2 separate regions of the Homo sapiens genome follow, and region 1 is linked to region 2. The links come from fine-mapping of genetic effects on gene expression. A gene starts in region 2. The other region holds a variant in brackets. All regions are shown on one strand. Distances are from middle to middle.

What was found. PIP is the estimated chance that this variant, and not a neighbour inherited with it, causes the effect.
Region 1: its variant is fine-mapped to the expression of TAF1C in atrial appendage (GTEx, PIP 0.97).

The regions. Positions count from the first base shown.
Region 1 is chr16:84,125,543-84,129,929 of GRCh38, forward strand. It overlaps HSDL1 (hydroxysteroid dehydrogenase like 1), which reads right to left. Exons shown (of 6, transcript NM_031463.5): 5 at 4,006-4,233. Among named protein-coding and RNA genes, the nearest start is that of MBTPS1-DT, 11 kb to the left of the region's middle. The variant G/T (reference allele first, on the strand shown) is at 1,831.
Region 2 is chr16:84,185,409-84,189,795 of GRCh38, forward strand. It overlaps TAF1C (TATA-box binding protein associated factor, RNA polymerase I subunit C), which reads right to left and starts at 1,649. Exons shown (of 15, transcript NM_001243156.2): 1 at 1,493-1,649. RefSeq lists an enhancer at 1,489-1,989 and a silencer at 1,635-1,844.

The sequences.
Region 1 (4,387 bases), 60 kb before region 2:
AATACCCACCAATCAATCACAACAAATACCCACCAGTCACAACAAATACCCACCAATCACATTAAATACAACAAAGGAAAAAGCCTCCAGGTACTACTGTACTGAATACCTACTTTTGCCTAAGATCTTACCCTAGATTCTACATGGAACAGAAACATGACCACCACCCACCTACCCGACTTTCTGTAATGAGGCTGGACTGTCCTGCATGTAAATACAATTCTGTCTTTACTTAACGTGATATGAACAAAATGTTCACTGGTTAAGAACCACAAAATCGGCTGGGCACGCTGGCTCATGCCTGTAATCCCAACACTTTGGGAGGCCGAGGCGGGTGGATCATGAGGTCAGGAGATCGAGACCATCCTGGCTAACAGGGTGAAACCCCATCTCTACTAAAAATACAAAAAATTAGCCAGGCGTGGTGGCGGGAGCCTGTAGTCCCAGCTACTCAGGAGGCAGAGGCAGGAAAATGGTGTGAACCGGGGAGGCGGAGCTTGCAGTGAGCCGAGATCGCGGCACTGCACTCCAGCCTGGGCAACAGAGCAAAACTCTGTCTCAAAAAAAAAAAAAAAAACACCACAAAATCATTATAGGAATAAATCAGTTGGAACAGACAGACGCATACGTGGTTAGTACTCTATGAGAAAACTGGGGCTTGAGGGGTAGTATGGAACAAAGTTCAACAAGAAAACAGGTCAGAAACACCAGTACCTTGGGATGGTATCTTGACCTATGATGGGGGTGCTCAGGGGACCAGGGAAGGGAGTCCTGCTGATGCTGCTCTGCTTCAGGGTCTCACTCAGGGCCTTTGTGCTAGCAGCAGACATAGGGCAATGTCTGAAAACAAATTTGGTCGTCACACTGGGAGTGGATGCTACTGGTATCTAGTGGGTGGAGGCCCAGGATGGTGTTCAACATCCTACAATACACAGGACGCTCCCCATGTCAAGGAATTACCTGCTCTCAATGCCAACAGTGCTGAGGTGGAGAAAGCCTACACTCCTCTAACAGATTTGTTCAGAACCGAATGAAAGTTCTAACACCGTGTATACGAAAGAGAAGAGAGACAGGCCCTTGGCAAGTACTGACATTCTAGTCTTGAACTGAACTGATGAATGATAATAGAGGTCATTCAATCCTCTTGTCAATAAATGGACACAGGTTACTCTCCAGGGAGGACACACCCACACCCACACACACACACACTCACGCACTTTGTGAACAAAATCACAGCAGCAAAAGCTATCAGAGAAATATGCCATGGACAAAACAGCAAAGGATGAATCAAATCTTTGATGTAAAATTGGAAATAAAAAATGATAGTGTTGAAAATAATTTGAGTAACATAAAATGAAAACAGAAAGTTTTAACAACTTTATACAGAAAACTACTCCAGGAATTAAATCAGCTTAACAGAATTTCTTGGCAGAAAAATACATTCTCAAGGAAAGTTTATCAATGTGAACAAAATTTAATTTTGAGTAAACTGTTCGTGTTTTATAAACACAGTCAAAACATCTACTGCACCTAAACCTGATCCTCATATCTTTATTTCTAAAAAAATTTTATGGTCAGTGACTTCTAAGACTACTTTTTAGGTTTCTCTGCTTTTCTCAAGTAATTAAAGGACCTGGAAACAACTACTTAAATAAAACTGTTTCTTCTTTTTTTTTTTTTTTTTTTTTTTTTGAGATAAGAGTCTAGCTCTGTCACCCAGGCTGGAGTACAGTGACGTGATCAGCTCACTGCCACCTCCGCATCCTGGGTTCAAGCGATTCTCATGCCTCAGACTCCCAGGTAGCTGGGACTACAGGCGTGCACCACCAT[G/T]ACCAGTTAATTTTTATATTTTTAGTAGAGATGGGGTTTCACCATGTTGGCAAGGCTGGTCTCGAACTCCTGACCTCAGGTGATCCACCAGCCTCAGCCTCCCAAACTGCTGGGATTAGAGATGTGAGCCACCACCACGCCCGACCAAAACTGCTTCTTATTAATCTCTCACTTTTCATAAAAGTCATAATTAACTGTTGATATACTTACATGTTTATTTGGTAGTGGCAAATCTAATACTCTTCATGCAAACAGTCCCAAAAATATCTGTTTGATAATTAAGAAAACTCCGAATATTAAAAAAAAAAAAAAATTCGGACCAGGTACAGTGACTCACACTGGTATTTTTTTTTTTTTTTTTTGTGAGACGGAGTCTTGCTCTGTCGTCCAGGCTGGAGTGCAGTGGTGTGATCTCGGCTCACTGCAAGCTCTGCCTCCCGGGTTCACGCCATTCTCCTGCCTCAGCCTCCTGAGTAGCTGGGACTACAGGCGCCCACCACCACGCCTAGCTAATTTTTTTGTATTTTTAATAGAGACGGGGTTTCACGGTGTTAGCCAGGATGGTCTCGATCTCCTGACCTCGTGATCCGCCCGCCTTGGCCTCCCAAAGTGCTGGGATTACAGGCTTGAGCCACCACGCCCTGCCAGCTCACGCTTGTAAATCCCAGCACTTTGGGAGGCCAAGGCGGGTGGATCACCTGAGATCAGGAGTTCGAGACCAGCCTGACCAACATGGTGAAACTCCATCTCTACTAAAAACACAAAAATTTGCTGGGCGTGGTGGCAGGCACCTGTAGTCCCAGCTACTCCGGAGGCTGAGGCAGGAGCATCACTTGAACCCGAGAGGTGGAGGTTGCAGTGAGCCAAGATCGCACCATTACACTCCAGCCTGGGCAACAAGAGCGGAATTCCATCTCAAAAAAAAAAAAATTCTAAACTAGGGCACATCTCTTTACTACACCAGATAAAGGAACTGAAATATATTGTAATAGATAATTATGCATTCTCAAATTAATACTTACGATCACAATTTCAAATATCTAAGAAAGTTACTTTCTACAGTACTAAAAGGTACCAATCCTTTGTCATGCCTAAACAATAAGCTTAAAATAAAAATTCTATGCTTCTTGAAAAAATTAGTCTAAGACTATACAGAGATATTATTTGATAAAATGGTTGCATGAAATATAGCCCTATCTTGTGGTTTTGTGGTTTTTTTGGATTATATTTTTCACTGAGAGGTAACCCTCAAGCAGTACTAGAATCTTTTACTTTGAAATTCCCATGTAAATACTTAGTATTTTTATAGTCCTAACATCCACTTACAGCAGCATATTTCTTTTTTTTTTTTTGGAAACAGAGCCTTGCTCTGTCGCCTAGGCTGGAGTGCAGTAGCGTGATCTTGGCTCACTGCAACCTCCGCCTCCAGGGTTCAAGCGATTCTCCTGCCTCAGCCTCCCAAGTAGCTGGGACTACAGGCACACACCACTAAGCCTAGCTAATTTTTGTATTTTTAGTACAGACAGGGTTTCACCATATTGGCCAGGTTGGTCTCGAACTCCTGACCTTAGGTGATCCACCCACCTCAGCTTCCCAAAGTGCTGGGATTACAGATGTGAGCCACCACACCCCAGCCAAAGTAGTATATTTCACTTTAAGGTGCCACATAGATTGAACTTTTGAAAATTCTTAAGGTAATAATTTCACAAAAGAAAATTTAGTGTCTTTGGTCAGGCACGGTGGCTCACGCCTGTAATCTCAGCACTTTGGGAGGCTGAGGCAGGCAGATCATGAGGCCGGAGATCAAGACCATCCTGGCTAACACGGTGAAACCCCGTCTCTACTAAAAATACAAAAATTAGCCAGGCGTGGTGGCAGGTGCCTGTAGTCCCAGCTACTCGGGAAGCTGAGGCAGGAGAATGGCATGAACCCGGGAGGCGGAGCTTGCAGTGAGCTGAGATCGCACCACTGCACTCCAGCCTGGGTGACAGAGCCAGACTCCATCTCAAAAAAAAAAAGAAAGAAAATTTAGTGTCTTAACCAAAATTATTAAGTGTCAGGCTTAAGAGTCAGAATTTACAATTCTCATCTTAGGCTTTAATCAGATTTCTCTGTATCACTGAGATAGGTTCATGATGCATTAATCTAATTATGAGACCTGAAGCACACTCCTACCTGAATAGAATGGGACCAATATCCTGTGGTCCTTTTGGAAATCCCAAGAGTAGAAACAGCATGATGTGCATAGACTTTTGGCGAAGGCACCAACCACGAGCACCTGTGCAGAAAGTTGCTGGGTGCTGTCATGCTGGTGGCTACATAGAAAGGGATTAGACTCTGTACAAAGATTCCTTTAGAGGCATATTCATATTGCAAGGCTCTGCTGAAGTGGTCTAAATAAGCCTGTTGAGACAGAGGGGAGGAAAAGACTTTTAATTCTGGGTGAACTTGAAAATTCAGGAGAAAAAAAGACTTGCTTATTATCAATTCAGGAAAAAATACAGGATAAGCATATGTGAGTTGCTGACAAAGAGTTCAACAAATCAGACCAAACAAC
Region 2 (4,387 bases):
GCGGTGGAGATGGAGTCAGAAAGACGGCAAGGGGCAGCCTCTCTCCCGGCTCGTAAGTACCGTCATCATACATTTACAGACTACACCCCCAAGACGCTCAAGTTACTCCACAGCCAGGGACTGCATCTGAGCATCGTCTTCCTACTGTCAAGCACAGTGCCTCCCAGAAAATGCACTAGGGGTTGAAAAAAATAAATTTCTATCACAAGGGGCCGGGCGCGGTGGCTCACGCCGGTAATCCTAGTACTTTGGGAGGCCGAGGCAGGCGGATCACCTGAGGTCGGGAGTTCGAGACTGGCCTGACCAATGTGGAGAAACCCGGTCTCTACTAAAAATACAAAATTAGCCGGGCGTGGTGACGCATGCCTGTAATCCCAGCTACTCGGGAGGCTGAGGCAGGAGAATTCCTTGAAGCCGGGAGGCGGAGGTTGCGGTGAGCTGAGATCGCGCCATTGCACTGTAGCCTGGGCAACAAGAGCGAAACTCCATCTCAAGAAAAAAAAAAATTACATCACAAGGCTTTGGTAAATACAGTCCTCTAGAAGTATGAGCAGCCATAGCATCCCTCCTTTTTAATTAACAAAAATAACAGGGGCAAAAATAACAGCAGCGCTCGCTGACCAAGCGCCAGCATCTATCTGCCAGGCACATGCTAAATGCTGCACTCTTCTATCGCCGTCCCTGTTAACAGAGTTCAGGAAACGAAGGCTCAGCAAGAACTTTAGTCCAACAGCTCTTAGCTGCCACAGCCAAGACTTGATTCCCATCCGATTCAGAGGCAGAGCTCCGAACCAGTGCTCTCGCATGCACCGAAATGCAAACGCTAGCATTAGAGTCTCGCTATACAAAAATCTTTTCCCTTTGGCCGGGTGCGGTGGCTCCCGCCTGCAATCCCAGCACTTTGGGAGGCCAAGGCGGGCGGATCACCTGAGGCCAGAAGTTTGAGACCAGTCCGGCCAATACAGTGAAACCCTGTCAATACTAAAAATACAAAAATTAGCCGGGCGTGGTGGTGTACACCTGTAATCGCAACTACCGAGGAGGCTGGGCACGAAAATCGCTTGAATCTGGGAGGCAGAGGTTGCAGTGAGCCAAGATCATGCCACAGCACTCCAGCCTGGGTGACAGAGCAAGGTTCTATCTCAAAAATAAAATAGAAACAAAAATATTTTCTCTTGGAACCGCATAGCCTGAAACGATCCTAGACAGGCGGAGGGCGCTGGTGGAGAGCACGACCCCACAAAAGCCCTCAGACAAGGCAGCCTCGACTTCCCCGGCCGGCTTCCCGCCCTCGCTGCGGGCTCTCCAGGACCCTTTAGACCTCCAAGGCTACAGAACTCAGTCGGATCCGCAATAACGACAGGCCGGGGACTGCGAAACGTGAGCCTGCCGCGGGGACTGGGGATTGGGGGCGTCCCTCCCCTCCTACATCTGCGGGTCCGCTCCTCGAACACGCGCAGTCCGCGCGGAGGGGGCGCATGCGTGCACTTACGTGACCCCGGCCTCGTCGTGGTCGTCTGGAAAATGGGCCTCGGCGTGATGCTCGCCGGACCCTGGCACCACGAGGGAAATCTCAAGTAGAACCCCAGCTTTGGCACTCGGGACGGGTCAGCCCCGCCGCAGCTACCCACGGTCTTCCGGTTTGGACCGGAAGTGCCTCCTGCGGAGGCAGGAAGTCCCGCCTCCCAGCCAGGCCTCTTAGGGTCCTGGCGCGCCCCCTCCCGGGAGGAGAGGGAACGGGCGTGCAGGCGGCGCGTGGGCAGCGGAAATAAAGCTCCCTTGAGTCCCAATAGTGGAGGCCGGGTGGACTTAGGTTCGAATCCCACATCTACTTCACCAATTTCCTCAGAGTTGTATTAAATTAATCATTTAACGAACTCCCACAGAACACCTACTATAAGCCAGACCTGTATTGGTCAGTAGGTATCCTACTGATTGTCCTTAAATCCCAAGAAGCGGGCTTTACAAATAAGGGTACAAATACCTACTAAGAGTGAAGCTTTTCCAGGGGTGGTCAGGCAGGGAGAGCTTTAGGCAGTGGTCTTCAAACTCTAGCTAGCGTGCGTCAGCAGTAGCACCTGGGGGGCTAGTTAAAACACAGTCTCCAATTCGGTGAGTCTGGGGTGGGACCTGATGATTTGCCTAAGTTCCCAGGTGATGCTGAAACTGCTTATCTGGGGGCCATGCTTTAAGAACCACTGTCCAGTCATGAACCTTACCGTTATCCTAACATAGTACTTCTCAAACTTCAGTGAGCCTTAGAACCACCTGGGGGGCTTGTTACAAGTTTGCTAGGCTCCACCCTACCTCTGCCCCCCGAGTTGCTGATTCAGTAGATCTGGGATGTGGCCCAAGAGTCTGCATTTCTAGCAAGTTCCCAGATGATGCTGGTCCAGGGGCCATACTTTGAGAACCGTTGCTTTAAAGAATCAATTTCCAAATTCTCAGCTGTCATCTATGTCTTTATTTATTTTTTTGAGATGGAGGCTAGAGTGCAGTGGCACGATCTTGGCACACTGCAACCTCCGCCTCTTGGGTTCAAGCAATTCTTCTGCCTCAGCCTCCCGAGTAGCTGGGATTACAGGCCTGCGCCACCATGCCCGGCTAATTTTTGTATTTTTAGTAGAGACGGGGTTTCACCATGTTGGTCAGGCTGAGTCTTGAACTCCTGACCTCAAGTGATCCGCCTGCCTAGGCCTCCCAAATTGCTGGGATTACAGGATGAGCCACCACGCCTGGCCTATATTGTTTTTATCTGGAAGTTTTTACCTGGACTAAAAGTGCCAGCAGGGCTGTGTTCCTTTTGAGAGGCTCTAAGGAAGAGTCCACTATCTTGTCTTTTCTGGCTTCTGGAAGCTGCCTGCATTCCTTGGCTCATGACCCCTTTCCATCTTCAAAGCCAGCAATGCCAGTCGGATTCTTCTCATGAGGCCATCTCTCTGGTTTTTACTCTTCTGTCTCCCTCTTTCCCATGTAAGGACCCATGTGATTATAGTAGGCCCGCCCAGGTAATCCAGGATAATCTCCCTATTTTATTTGTTTTATTTATTTTTTTGAGACAGGGTCTCACTCTGTCGCCCAGGCTAGGGTGCAGTGGTACCATCATGGCTCATTGCAGCCTCAACTTCCCAGGCTGAGATGATTCTCCCACCTCAGTCTCTCGAGTAGCTGGGATTACATGCAAGCACCACCATGCCTGGCTAATTTTCTTTTTTTTTTTTTATTTTGAGACAGAGTTTCACTCTGTCACCCAGGCTGGAGTGCAGTGGCGTGATCTTGGCTCACTACAACCTCCACCTTCCAGGTTCAAACGATTTTCCTGCCTCAGCCTCCCGAGTAGCTGAGACTACAGGTGCCTGCCACCACACCCAGCTAATTTTTGTATTTGTAGTAGGGACGGGGTTTCACCATATTGGCCAGGCTGGTCTTGAACTCCTGACCATGTGATCCACCCGCCTTGGCCTCCCAAAGTGCTGGGATTACAGGCATGAGCCACCACGCCCGGCCTAATTTTTGTAGTTTTTGTAGAGATGGGATTTCATCATGTTGCCCAAGTTGGTCTCTAACTCCTGGGCTCAAGCTACCTTCCCACCTGGGCCTCCCAAAGTGCTGGGGTTACAGGTGAGAGCCCTATTTTAAAGGCAGCTGATTAGCAACCTTACTTCCACCTGCAACCTTAATGCCCCCTTGCCAAATAATATACTCATAGGTTCTGGGGATTAGGCTGTAGACATCTTTGGGGGAACCATTATTTTGCCTACCACACTAATATTCTACATTACCCTTGTAAAACGCCTATCCAGCTTTGGCACTGCGAGGCCAGTTCCATTTCTTCCTTTCCTCCTTTCTCTGAATAAGCCATTATCAATTTGCTTTTGTAACTGACATATACTCAACATGCAGTAAAGCACACGAGTCTTAAATGTACAGCTCATTGAATTTTTATTCATACATAGAAACCCACATGAACACCACCCAGATCAAGACAGAGAACATTTCTATCACTCAAGAAAGTTCCAGCCAGGCACAGTGGCTCATGCCTATAATTCCAGCACTTTGGGAGGCCGAGGTGGGAGGGTTGCTTGAGTCCAGGAGTTCAAGACCAGACTGGTCAACAGAGCAAAACCCCCATCTCTACAAAATTTTTTTCTAAAAAGAAAATTCCCTGGTGCCACTTCCCAGTCAATACTTCCTTCAAGAAGGAACCACTATTTGGACTCTTATCACCACAGATTAGTTTTGCCAGTTCAAGAACTTTACATAAGTGGAATCATGGAGAGGATGTGTCTGGCTTCTTCCACGCCATGTGCCTAATAGATTCACCTGTGTTGTGTACGCAGCTGTTGTTTCCTTTTTAAATTAGTGAGTCGTGTTCCATTGTATGAAT